Homo sapiens: one gene and its partners. The protein of the gene in region 1 purifies or fractionates together with the protein of each later gene. This does not show direct contact. Each region holds a gene or a part of one and is shown on either strand. Other genes may lie near its edges.

Region 1 (3,500 bases):
TGGCAGCGACCAGGGGGCTGCCCCTACAGAGTCCCTCACCTGGCAGGCATCAATGCCACCCTCGGGGTAGCCAGCACAGAACATCTTGGGCTTGATCTGGTTTCCATAGAAGTCAGCGCCATTGCAGACATCATTGCTGATTATGGGGACTCGAGCCTCCTGGAGTACCCCGGCCTGTTGGCCTGGGGGTGTGCAGGCAAGGCTGGCCAGAGCTGGGGGGTGTACACACCCCCCTTCCCTCCTGGTGCCCACCCCATTCCCCTCAGCGTCCCTACTCCTCATGGTCAAGACTCATCCAACCAGCCAGACTGCCCATCCCCAGCCTAGTTCAGAGTCTCCCAAACGGTGGCATCAGAGGCAGAGGACAGGACTCACCATAGTACTGCGTGTTGCCCCAGCCCGTCACGGTACAGATCTTGCCATCCACCAGGGCCTGGCCGGCAGCTGGGAGGCACACAGGCTGGATGTATTCTGTGAGAGAGACAATGCTGGTCCAGCCCCCGCTGGCCTGCCCCACCTGGTACAAACCTCTGTCCAGCTGCTACCATGGCCCCTAACACACCCTGCCCTCTCTGTTCTTTAAAAAAAAAACCACAATAGGCTGGGCACAGTGGCTCATGCCTGTAATCCCAGCACTTTGGGAGGCCGAGGCAGGAGGATCACTTGATGTCAGGAGTTTGAGACCAGCCTGGCCAACGTGGCGAAACCTCATCTCTACTAAAAATACAAAAATTAGCCGGGCATGGTGGCACGCACCTGTAATCCCAGCTACTCGGGAGACTGAGGCAGAAGAATCACTTGAACCCAGGAGGTGGAGGTTGCAGTGAGCCGAGATCATGTCATTGCACTCCAGCCTGGGCGACAGAGCAAGACTCTGTCTCAAAAACAAACAAACAAACAAAAAAGCCACAACGGAAGTCGCCACGTACCAAGAGCTCATCGCATACTAGGCGCCTTCCTGCACCATTTTCTTTAATGTTTCATCAGCCCAGAGAGGTAGGGTCTATATTATCCCATTTTAGAGAGGGGGAAAATGAGGCCAAGTCACGTGTCCAAAGTTTCATAACATGTATGTTTTAACACAGCTTGTTTTCATTTCTAAGCCTGCAGTGTCACCCAGGCCAGAGTGCAGTGGCAGGAACATGGCTCACTGCAGCCTCGACCTCCTGGGCTCAAGCAATCCTCCTGCCTCAGCCTCCCAAAGCACTGGGATTACAGATGGCAGGTGCCTGTAATCCCAGCTACTCAGGAGGCTGAGGCAGGAGAATCGCTTGAACCTAGGAGGCAGAGTTTGCAGGGAGCCGAGATTGCGCCATTGCACTCCAGCCTGGGTGACAGAGCAAGACTCTGTCTCAAAAAAAGAAAGAGAGAGAGAGAAGAAAGAGAGAGAGAGAGAGAGAGACACTCCTATCTTGAGACATTTGACTTCCACCTAGCAGAAAATCATAATAATAAATACACAGGTCTACAGAGAGAGTGGTAACCCTGAGATGTGGTGTCCTTGTGCAGTGCACAACCTATGCAAGGGTTCCTGGCAGCCCTGCCTGTTGCCTGCTGCCTGCTGCCTGCTGATGACATCACCTGCCTGAGTCTTAGAGCTCTCAGATGTAGAATGGAAATAATAATCACTTATCCCCAGAAGTTGTAGTGAGAAATTGGTGAGTCATTGAGTTGCATGCCAGGCAAACAGCAAGTGTTCATATAACTAGTAAAAGTATTAAACAACAATAGTAGCAATTGCTAACATTTACCAGTGTTCACTATGTGCTGGCAGTTCTCTAAGCTCTTTACTCATATTAACCCTTTTAATTGTCTCAATAACCCTAGGAAGTCATTTTACAGATAAGGGAAACTGAGGCACGGTGAGGTGAAGCCATGTGTCCAAGATCACACAGTTGGCAAATATCTGAATCTGACCCCAAAGCCCATGCTGTGACCCCCTCAGCCCTGTGTCTGAAATCCCAGCCGCTTCCACCTGTCCACCTGTCCTCAAAGATGCGTCCTTACTTCAATATTAACTCTCTCACTCTTTTCACTAAGGAGAAGGGTGTGGCAACGATCTTGGCTCACTGCAACCTCCACCTCCTGGGTTCAAGTGATTCTCCTGCCTCTGCCTCCAGAGTAGCTGAGACTACAGGTGCCTGCCACTACACCTGGCTAATTTTTGTGTTTTTAGTAGAGATGGGGTTTCACCACGTTGGCCAGGCTGGTCTCAAACTCCCGACCTCAAGTGATCTGCCCGCTTCAGCCTCTCAAAGTGCTGGGATTACAGGCGTGAGCCACCATGTCAGGACAGGGTTTGGTTTTAAAGAAAAGCATGTATCACTCCCTTCAATGGGAAACCAGTACCACAGATCATGAAAAATAAAATAAACATAAAAATAAACATAATGCCAACCCCAACATGGCCCTGGATTCTCCGTCACCACAGCGTGGGGGCCACAAGCACAGATTCCAGTGCCAGTCCACCTGGGCACAAATCTTTGCCGTTCACCAGCTGTACGAATTTGGGGCATTGTTTGCCTTCTTTGGGTTGGGACCTTTTCCTGGGTGGAAAACAGGATCTTAAGAGAACCCTCCTTACCAGGGTGTGCTGGGGTTGCTGTGAGAACTAAGTGAGTCCATACACAGGACATATTTGGAATGGTGCCTGGCACACTGCTATGTTTACCAGATTATTTTACTGTGTTGTGTACACTCATCATGTACTCCCTTATTCCCTTTTACTACTTCATGATCATGAACTCGCTATACTCGAATACTCAATCATGAACTCGAATACTACTCGCTATTACTACTTCATGATCATCATTATCACCGTTATTATTATTATGTTCTGAGACAGGGTCTCGCTCTATCAACCAGGCTGGAATGCAGTGGTGTGATCATGGCTCACTGCAGCCTTGATCTCCTGGGTGATCAGGTGATTCTCCTGCCTCCGCCTCCCAAGTAGCTGGGACCACAGGCGCGCACCACCACAGCCAGCTAATTTTTTTTGTTTGTAGAGATGGGGTTTTGCCATGTTGCCCAGGCGAGTCTTGAACTCCTGAGCTCAAGCGATACCCCCACCTTGGCCTGGGATTACATGCCCAGCCTATTTTTATTATTATTATTACACTGCAGCCTGCTGAAATCTGAAGCCCAGGGCCTGCTTTTAATCCAAAAGGAAGATGTATGTGTTGGAGAGGTGTTAAGGACATGTTGGCACCTAAGTGAGTCTCAGTAAGACCAAGGGAATACTCCAGGGAATTGCAGAGGGAATGACTCCTAACTTACTTTCTAAGTCTGATTCATTCATTTTTAACACATTTTCTTTTCATTTTATTAGTTTTTTGGTAACAGCTTGATTGAACTACTATTCACATATTAGACAATTCCTTTTAAAGGCACAAGTCACTGGCTTTTTGTGTAGTCACAGACAAGTGCAACCATGATCATGATCGACTTAGAATCTTTCATCACCCAGACAAGAAACCTTGTGTCCTTCACCAGTCACCTCC
Region 2 (3,500 bases), on another chromosome or scaffold:
TTCTTCAGTATCACTTAGGCATTCAAAAAATTCTTCTTCGCTGTCACTCCAGGAATCCCAAGATTTTCCTACCTCTCCCTTTTCCTTATCTGTTTCTTTTAGATTATCTGGCACCAACTGGTCTCCTGCTTTTCCAGCATCCCCTGGATATATATTAGTGACATCTGAAGCACTTGTCTTTTTCCCCTCATCACGTGCCTTCTTTCTTTCAATACAACAATTTAACATCTTAAGAAAAGAGAAATAACATTTATAGTTGAATTAGTTACAGAAAAATAAAAATCTACCTACTGCTTGAATATTTAATTTTCACTCTCCACTTCTCAGGACCTTGTGAATTGCAGTGACTACTGACTATAGGCAACCTACAGCAGCACCATGAGAACAGCATGTAACCCATTATTACATTTAGTATTAGAATAATCTGATTAAATCAAGACCACATTTATCCATGTCATTGAGAAATCTTTACCTGTAGTTTCTGATGCAGTAAACAACACCTCAGATCTGGGGGTCCACTTGCTAATCTATCAAATAAAGTAAGGAGAAAAGAAAGCTTAGTTTTAGTAAAATTGCTTCAGATATGATTATTTTCTATACTACCATAATTTTTAGCTATATTGATAAGAAATCAAAACTAGATTTCCACAGGTAAGGTAAGTGAATTCCAGAGGGGGAGCACATAGAATTAAAAGATGAAAATTTATTTTATACTCCTTGTCCACAAATCACCAATAGCAAATATAATAGATATTTCAAAACATAACAGCAAATTAGTGATAGTTTTCAGGCTAACAAAAACTCAAAATGAGAAAAAGCCCCTGAACCCACTCCAGGAAGTACTAGCATACAGTATTTCACACCATACAAAATAAATCAGTTTGTGTATTCAGTACTAAATTCTTACAGTGGATTCTCACTATAAAAACCAAGATCTCCACCTGTATTTCAATAGGACCTTGGACTGTCTCTAGTTCTAGGTTCCTCTAGACTACTAGGTTCCCAGCAATCAGCCAGAGGCACTCCCTCATATTCAACATGCTTCTGGGTCTGTAAAATGTTCCAGAGCGGACTGTCTAAAACCAAGAGAGAATCCAGCTAAGCAGAGATTGGCAAATGATATAAATGTTTTTGGATCAGTAATCATTTTATATTGCTCAAAATCATGATTCTCCTATCATAGCATGGGTAGATGAGCACTAAACTATGCAATATCAACCTATGTGCTAATGAAAATGTTCTGTTTGATTAAGTAAAATGTCAATTACAAAAAACAGGTTTATTACAAAAGACTTTGAAAATGCATAAAAGTATAAAGAACAAAATAAAAGTATAATTTCACACTGGGAAAAACTGATAGCATTTCACAGTATTTATAATATTTTTCCTGTACAAATATAGCAACATAATTAAAAGTACTTTGTATATGCATTAAAATATTCTACTTTATTAGAAACAATATGAACATCTGTTATTAAAGATTATTGGGGGAAAAACTGTAATCAATCTAATTTTCTATTGTAGAGATACAGTATAATTTATTTAACTATTCTTTTATGTTTGATATTTAGGTTTTGCCTTTTTTTCTATTATATTAATAAATTTGCTGCAGTGAACACCTCTGAACATAAATCATGTCTAAGCTTCTTGCCACTTTCTTAGGGCAGACTTCCTAGAAGGGGGAAAAAATAGGTCAAAAGTCAAATGTCTGCTAACAAACAAAATCGTATCCAAACAATTGAAAATTGAAATTATTACCCTGGAATCAGAAAGTTGTTTTCCCATCGGAAACGCATTTCAAGAACAAATTCCTGCCAGAGGTGTGCCACTCCTTTCAACCCTCCATGGTAAAAATTGATCATACAGAGACACAAAGCCAGTTTGTATGTTAAACTGTCAGATGGTGCAGACTTGAACTGATTGTAGAGATTCTAAATTTAACAAAATAGAAACAAAGCAAACTTGTTACCAAAATATTTTACACATATAACTGAAAAGGTCGTAGGGAGAGATTTTAATTGTAAAATTAACCTATCCCACCTAAACTAGGCATTATCAAATGTCTAATACACTACTGCATAAACTATTCTTAGGAAGTCCCACATTTTCAAGATTTCTACTAAGATTAAAAAAGATAAAGCTATAGTTTAATGAAGCTAAAGTTACAGCTTTCAATTTCTTCTGTGGAATATTTAGGAAGTATTCCAAATTTCATGTGTTGTTTTAAAAATCTTTTAATTACAAAAATGAGCACGTCTGAAAAAACAAAAATCATAACTATCTAAACTGAAAATGTAAAAAGCCTTTGCTTTTTTCTCTCACCTCATCAAATCTACTTCTCAACAATAACTACTGTAAAGGTTGATATATATCTACACTTGTCATTTAAATTCTTCAACTTCTTAATTTTTCAAAGACTAGACAAAGAGACCATGAAAATTTTACCTAATTTTACACATTTTACTTCATTAAAGAGTTGTCCATTCACTAACTAGTTTTAAAATATCAAAAAGAATCTGCTGAGAAACACAAATTTAATGATTTCACCAAAACTCTACAATGAGGGAAATCCTACAGCTGTGTAGAGTATATTTGTGCTATTTTTTCATTGTTTCCAGAAAAATTCTTGCTACCCAAAATATGTATCTGTGCTAGTTATCTAAGTGGAAACCACGATCTGCCATCCAAAATTCCCAAGGTGATTTTTAAAATAAAAATATAGTAAGCTATTAAACTAGAAATATATAGAACCTCTAGAAATTCAGTGCATTTAAAACATTTTAACATTGAACTCCACATCAACTTACATAGTCTTCACTCTCTGATGGAGGATTATTATTATCTGTTGAAGTAGTTCCATCTAATGGTTTCTCAGAAACAGCATCAGGGAATAAGAACTTGAAGGAAAGGAAAAAAATAATCACATTTTAGACCACATTTCCTATTTTGTTGATTTTTATAACTCATATAGACATTATTTAACTTTTTAATGGTTTTGCTGCTCTAACAATAGAAATGTTCCAGTTGTATTGGCCAGTTTGTTCTACACTCTCAAATTTTTTCTATTTTTCTTTGAAAATATACAAGGTTTCAGTGACTAGCCAATTTTAGAAATTAGAATTTTTTTCTTAAAAGTAATCACTTGATTCTGTAAGCTGAAAGGTGCAAAAGCAAAATCTCATCACTGTGACTTCATGCTCACCCAAGGCCATTACATTTTTTTAGTGTTACTACTATCTAAAAAACAAAACCACAAAAGACAATTTAAAAACACTCATGTACTCATGAGGATCTGAAGAGTTACATCATCCACAGGCTTTCATATATAGACTACTAAGAGATGATATTCAAGACCCACAGCTTTATTTTATGATACCCCTGGAAAGTAGGAAGCAGTCTAAACCTATAATAACCAATGTACCTTTTCCATGTGGTTTCTGTTTATATGTACATGTACGAGTGGTCAAAAAAAAATCCAGTGTACATGACAACTGAGCTAC
Region 3 (3,500 bases), on another chromosome or scaffold:
AGTTAAAAGGTGTTTCTATGGCAACTCCAGGCCCTGCACCCTATGGAAGTGTTTAGGAGAAGAATAAACTACATGCCGGCTTATAAGACACACTGTGGGGGAAAGAAAGGGACTTGGCAGCAGGCAGGATGTCTGTGGTCCCCCTCCCTGGCCAGTCATTGCCCCTGAAACTCCTGACAAAACCTTGACTCTAGAAGAGGAATGGGAGGGGGCTGGAGATGAAGAAGGCGGCCTCGGCCCGGGCAAATCTGCCCTGGCAGCTCTGTCCAGCTCAGGAAGGGGTGGGCTGTGCCAAGGGCTTTCTGAAAATGTGCGTGTGTGCGTGTGTGTGTGTGTGCGCGTGTGTGGCTTCTGCAAAGGTGGCTGGCAGGGCTGAGGGGGGTTGCAGCAGAGAAAGAGAATTTTGCTTCAGAATGCCAAGCCCTTCTCTCCTTCTCTCTTGCCGCCTTTGCATGGGAGGAATGGGGCTGTAGGATGAAGTGTGTTCGGGGCCTGCCTCTGAGCCTGTTGGGAATTTGAGCATGAGGCTCAGCTGGGGGGCCGGCTGCCAGCCCCAGAGGATGGCCCCTGGATAGCTCCAAATTGTTCTGACAGGGGCCAGTGCCAGCAGATTCTTTCAGTATCAGATCTGAGGTTGTCGTTTTAGCAAAGAAGCCATTTTCAAAGAAACCAGATCCATCCCCTCTCCCTCTTACACACAATTACACCTCAACACTGGGCTTTGCAACTTAAGGAAAATAGAAAGAATCAGACTTTGGAGAGGCGCCAGCACTTGGTAGGGCAAGTCTGGGGGACCCAGGCTGTGGATGTCTTGGAACCATGGAAGGAGGAGAGCTGCTATCCAGCTGGAGGAGGGAAGAGACATGTCTTAGGCCCCTCCTGGTTGCACGCACTTCCCAAATGCCATCTCTTTCACCCCCTCCCCCGACCCCCCACAGCAACCTTAAGAGTAGGTATTGCACCCATTTTTCAGATGGAAAACACTGAGGCTGAAGAGACTGTGCTTGTCCAAGGCCACCCAGTTGCTAAATGATAAAGCTAAAACGTATTATCAGTTATACCATGCTTCAAAAACCTTTCAACTTTCATTGACACATGACATTCTAAGGTGACCAGGAGATGGAATGGATGGTTAACATTTGAAGAATGCTTTTCTTCTACATCTGGGTTTTCTTTAAAAATATGAAGATAGCCAAAATGGCCAGAGGTTTTAATTAAACATCATCTTTAGGGAGGGAGAGCTTATTATTATTCTAGTGTATCATAGAGGAAAATTCTAATGTTCTTTGGCTATTAGATCTGGAAAAGACCCTTGAAACCATCAAGCCACAGTAATAAAAGGACTTGGTTTGTCTCACTGTGGCCCAAGGAGAAGTAAGGTTAATAGAGACAAGACATTTCAGGGCTTCAAGACTCTTCCCTTAAAGGTGGGATCAGTTAGGGCTCCCCAGTGGGAGGTACCCGGTCTGCCAGTGTGGTAGGAGGAAAGCCAGGGGGAGTCAGGAGACTGGGTCCCAGCTGGAGAAGGTGCCCCTCTGACAGTTCTGTGTCCCTTTCACAGTCCCTGGATAGATAAGGCTAGAAAAGTGGCCACAGAAGTAGCTTGGGTGGAGGGATTTTTGTTTGTTTTGCATGAACAGCAGGAACCATTCAGCTCCACTGCTGAATGGCACATTCCAACAGGTTCATTAATTAAAAACAAAAACAACAACACGATTCTCCATCGCACTTGGCTTTTACCATTCCAGCCAGTATGGACAAGGAGGCCCCTTCTTCTACCTTTTGTCATAGTCTACTCCTGGGTGGCCTTGAGAGGCAGGGTGGAGTGGTGGAAAGGCAATGGGGAGGGCAGATCTGAGCTCCACTCCTTCCTCTGGGGCTTGTTGGCTGTGTGTGCCTAGGCACATATGGGCTACCTTTGAGCTTTAGTTTTCTTATTTATACAAGGGGAATAACAATTTGTACCATCTTGGCCTGTTTTATCTATATTTTAAAAGCTACAAGTATATGAATACATTCTATGTCCATGTATGTATCTCTCTGTATATCTATGATATATCCATTTCTATTTATCATTTATCATCTATCTATCTATCTCTCTATCTAAAATCGGAGAAGAGTAAAATCCTTTCTGATTACTTTTTCTAACTCTAGTCCCTTCTCCAAATCCTTTTCTTCCTATACATTTACATACATAGGTATCCATAGCAAATTTATAGTAGTTTTTCCCTTAGAAACATGAATAGTAGAACATTAAACATCATGGAATACCACATAATACCACATATAGTATTCTGCTTGTTTCCCATTCAACAATGCGTACTAGAGATCTTTCTACTTAATATATATATAAAACTGTCAGAGGAGCACCTTCTCCAGCTGGGACCCAGTCTCCTGACTGCCCCCCTGGCTTTCCTCCCACCACATTGGCAGACTGGGTAGCTCCCCCTGGGGACCCCTAACTCATCCCCACCTTTAAGGGAAGAGTCTTGGAACCTTGAAATGTCTTGTCTCTATTAACTTTACTTCTCCCTGGCCACAGTGAGACAAACCAAGTCCTTTTATTACTGTGGATTGATGGTTTGGAGGATATATATATATAAATATATAATATATAAATATATAATTTATATATAATATATAAATATATAATATATAATATATATTATATATAATATATATTATATATAATATATATATATTATATTTACATATATATTATATATATAATATATATATTTCTTTTATGTATTTCATGAGGTTATAATTTTAAACAGCTAATAAGTATAGAGTGATTACTATGTGCCAGGCATTATTCTAAGTCATTAACTTACATTAACTCATTTAATTCTCTCAGTTTTATGAGGGAGGTGTGCTATTGTCATCTCCATTTTACAGCTGAGGAAACTGAGGCTTAGAAAAATGAGGTAACTCGTTTAAGGTTATACTGCTAGCAAGGAATACAGCCTGTATTTAAGCCCCTTCACCCTGGCTCTAAAATATATTTAACAACTATACTATAGGTCACATTATACCATATCATATTATATATACTACTACATACTCTTATATTATTATAATTATATAATATGCATTTTCAATTTTAATAGTTCCTGCCAATTTGGCCTCCACAGTGGCTGTGTTAACACAGTTCTTTTCATATATGCAACATGAGGGGATGGAGGAATGTTAGAGCCCTGTGCTTAAGAGACTCCCATGCTTCTCTCAAATAGAAAAACAATTTATAATTTTTATTGACTTACTGAGTGTTTTTTTTCCTTCTTTTTGTCTCTTTGAAAGGGAGCAAAATTAGGGCCACGAAGATCAAGTTAATGGGAGTATTTTCATAGGGAGAGGAAGGCTGCAATGCCAGGAAAGCTGTGACCCTTGACTTGTTGCATGCTGGAGTAATTCGGTTGAAGATAGCTTTATGTATTTATTTTGCTTTCAGAATAAGCAGTGGACCATTTATTACACCAAGTTGTTTGACTTTGAGGACT
Region 4 (3,500 bases), on another chromosome or scaffold:
ATGCCCTGTAAATAATACAGGCATTTGAGAAACTCATTAACTTTTAGAATGAAAAGGTACAGTTTATTATCTCAAATAAATCTACTAGAAAAATCTCAGTGGGAACATGTGTTCATAAGCATATAAAACCACACCAGAATAAGGAATACCTGAAAGAGTACTGCACATCATTCTTCAAAATACTCCCTGCTCAAAAACTATAAATAACATTCTGAAATGAAAACAGCCCTTCACAATGATAATCTAATAGACTTCCAATAATAATAATATACTTATCTATGTCCACATACTATATATAACACATGCACACATGCCATGTCTGTGCATGCAACCAAACTAACTGGCACAAAGCAAACTTTGTAAACAAAAAACGCATTTCAAAAGAACCACTACAAATAGCCCAGAGGAAAAAGAACTCCACAAAGAAAGTCAAGCCAGTGTCAAATGAGAAATTATGGCAAATTAAAGGATATTTTGAGTAATACCTTATGTCGAGCACCAAAAACCACTAAAAAGATGTTTTTCATGTAAAACAAAATAGTGACACTAGTAAGGACATCTGTGTGCAGAGGAATCCATGACAGAAAAAAATGCTTGGATGGTAGAAAAAAAATTATCACATGCTATGCATCTTTTTGAAAGGTAGAGTATTGAAAATAAAACATAAAATATTTTCCTACACTTATACTGTGTCATTCAAGTTGCTGCAACTCAAGACAAATATACAGCAGGAACTGGAAGGAAAGAAAAGGCAATCAGGACAGGACATTCCTTTTTTTTTTTTTTTTTTTTTTTTTAGACAGGGTCTCACTCTGACACCTAGGCTGGAGTGTAGTGGTGTGATCTCAGCTCACTGCGGCCTCGACCTCCTGAACTCAAGTGATCCTCCCACCTCAGCCTCCTGAGTAGCTGGGACTATAGACATGCATCACCATACCCAGCTAATTTTTATTTTTTGTAGAGACAAGGTTTCACTATGTTGTCCAGGCTGGTCTCGAACTCCTGGACTCAAGTGATCCTCCTGCCTTGGCCTCCCAAAGTGCTGGGATTACAGGCATGGGACACCGCGTCCAGCTCCTTTTCATCATATACTTCTTCTTCAATCAAGTGACTGAAGAAGAGAGACATCACCCAGATGAAAACCAAAGGGAGCTGGCAGAAGGGGAGTGTTCTAGCTCGGAAAAGATGATGACCTAGAGAGAACAAGGATGATTTGTGTAACATTTTAAATGACTCAGTTAAGGTAAAGACACACCTTGATTACCAAATCTTTTAGAAGCTACTTCTAAAATCTGATTTTAGCTACCTTTAGGAAGGTGACTCTGCCAGAGAAGATCTGAGGATTCAAAATGAGCTTGGATAAATTCAAGAATGGCTAAGATAAGCTGAGATTAATCCCTATCCTTTACAGTTGACGTCAGAGAGAACAAGTGTGCCCTCATGGCCTCCAGTGGCTGTATATATTTGAAATGCTGTGGGTGTACAGGCCATTTCTGTTTCCATGTTATATGAAATATATCGATATATTATTTATTAATTATAACTCTAATGGCCATATTAGAAAAGCCTACAGGTCGTATATTTCTAATCACCTTATTGCCTCACGACAAAATTCAGCCATGTGATTGTCCTCATCTATACGAGAAAATCTGGATTTACTCTTCATCAAGGCCCTGATAGAATTTTTAATATGTAGTACCAGAACTAGAAATCAACAATTTAGCAAAATTGTTTTGAGTGGCTATTTCCAGAGGTAGGATTAAAAGTAACTTGAATAAAGTCCTGCAACAAGCCCTACACTTCCTAGTAAATGGGATCTGATGTTGAGGTTAAATTGAGAGATTCAATCTGAGGTTAGAAAACTCACTACAACAATAGGTATGTGTATGGCTTCTGCTAATGTGGGATACCTAATAAAAAACAAGGATGGTGAACAGAATACCAAGGGATTTACTGTTGGCTCAATCAATAAAAAGAATTTAAGTTTCACATAGAGAACAGAGTTTCTTAAAGTGCCATTGATTCCATCATTGAAATGAAATTGCAATAGAGCATGCTTTCCTTAAAACCATTACATTTACTTACTAGCTTAAATTAACCAACTCCCTACTTTGATGGAAGTTACCACCTCACTTTCATTATTGGACATAAACTAGTGGTAATAACCTCCCAGAGAAGAACCTCTGTTCACTGACCTGAAGCTAAACATATATACCTGTTAATTGTGCTATTTGGGGCAGAACAGAGGGGATTCTGTGTGTAATTAAAGATAAAATCACTTATACTCATTAAAATTAACCATTTAACTATATTCTCCTCACATACTATAACTATTACTTAATCAGAAAACTACTTCCCAGGCAGTCTATTGACCATATGGCATAGTGGTCTTTTCAGTATTACAGAAATGCTCATTCAAAGCAGGAATGTTTCCCAGGGAAGTGGTGGACCCACATAAAGGGACTTTGGAGGCCCCATGTCCTAATCACCTTTTAGTGTACTGTATATATACAATATATATAAATAACAAATCATATCTCTTCCAAAAATCAAAATTGACTTTTACATTAAAAAAGAATTACCAAGGAATTCGGCAAACCTTACTTCTGGTAGTGGGCTGGCTGGTTTGGTTAGGATTCCTCCTACATAAACAACATTAGGCAGAGTGGGTCTTGGGAATTCCAGTGCTACGTCAGTACACAGCATCCACAGGCTGGACCCATGAACCAAATCATACATGGACTTCTCTGGCAGCAGGTTGTACTTCTGCATTATCCTTTCATATTTGGGAAGAACCAGAAAGCTGACCCCTAATCTGGAAATGAGGTAAACACCGGTATTTTTCATCCTTTGCAGCAAGTTCATGCGGTCTGTGAGGAGTGAGTTAAACTCTGGGACGTATGCTAATGGAGCAGGAGCACCCACTTCAGCAGGATACCAAAGGCCAGTTGAAAATACAGCATATTTAACCCCTAAAAGATGAGCTATCACAAATCCACACATATCATTAGGGTCCACCAGCAGCAGGTCAAATTTTTCTTTCTTCAGACCCTGGATCAGGGCATGGTTGCCAACCATCAGGTCACAGTTCTTAGTATAGTGATCCAGTATGTCAAACAGTTCGATTGCTGTCAATCTCCCAGAGAAAATATTCCGCATCTTGGACTGTAGGAAAGCATCTGAGGTGGTACTGTTAAAGATCCCTGGGTAGCGCTGGAGGCTGTAATGATTAGATGGGGCGATGTCTCTGCCTTCAGAGAGGAGGAACACTGTATGGTGGCCTCTCTCGTGCAAGGCTGAGGCTAGCGTCTTGAAAATGTACATATGGCTTTCAAACATAATTGGCGGCACGATGATGATTTTGGCAGCCTTCGCTATCCCAACAGCACTCCACAGGAGAATGAAATATGGAGTGTAAGACTTCATAGCTGTAATAACAACCAGAAAACAACTTAAAACAAAATACAATGCTCACCATTCAAAACAAGCAATCACAAAGC

What was found.
Region 2: the proteins of HPN (region 1) and RAB3GAP1 purify together in Homo sapiens (co-immunoprecipitation; one large-scale study listed by IntAct). This does not show direct contact.
Region 3: the proteins of HPN (region 1) and TIMP3 purify together in Homo sapiens (co-immunoprecipitation; 2 studies listed by BioGRID and IntAct, with this or other methods). This does not show direct contact.
Region 4: the proteins of HPN (region 1) and UGT8 purify together in Homo sapiens (co-immunoprecipitation; 2 studies listed by BioGRID and IntAct, with this or other methods). This does not show direct contact.

The regions. Positions count from the first base shown.
Region 1 is NC_000019.10:35,062,221-35,065,720, reverse strand, and holds part of HPN (serine protease hepsin precursor), read right to left. Parts: intron 472-3,500; coding exon 376-471; intron 183-375; coding exon 40-182; intron 1-39. UniProt on the Homo sapiens protein: Serine protease that cleaves extracellular substrates, and contributes to the proteolytic processing of growth factors, such as HGF and MST1/HGFL. Plays a role in cell growth and maintenance of cell morphology.
Region 2 is NC_000002.12:135,132,292-135,135,791, reverse strand, and holds part of RAB3GAP1 (rab3 GTPase-activating protein catalytic subunit), read right to left. Parts: intron 2,898-3,500; coding exon 2,808-2,897; intron 1,932-2,807; coding exon 1,759-1,931; intron 528-1,758; coding exon 473-527; intron 229-472; coding exon 1-228. UniProt on the Homo sapiens protein: Catalytic subunit of the Rab3 GTPase-activating (Rab3GAP) complex composed of RAB3GAP1 and RAB3GAP2, which has GTPase-activating protein (GAP) activity towards various Rab3 subfamily members (RAB3A, RAB3B, RAB3C and RAB3D), RAB5A and RAB43, and guanine nucleotide exchange factor (GEF) activity towards RAB18.
Region 3 is NC_000022.11:32,804,705-32,808,204, forward strand, and holds part of TIMP3 (metalloproteinase inhibitor 3 precursor), read left to right. Parts: intron 1-3,500.
Region 4 is NC_000004.12:114,622,807-114,626,306, reverse strand, and holds part of UGT8 (2-hydroxyacylsphingosine 1-beta-galactosyltransferase precursor), read right to left. Parts: exon of another isoform or gene 3,429-3,500; 5' UTR 3,427-3,428; coding exon 2,605-3,426; intron 1-2,604. UniProt on the Homo sapiens protein: Catalyzes the transfer of galactose to ceramide, a key enzymatic step in the biosynthesis of galactocerebrosides, which are abundant sphingolipids of the myelin membrane of the central nervous system and peripheral nervous system.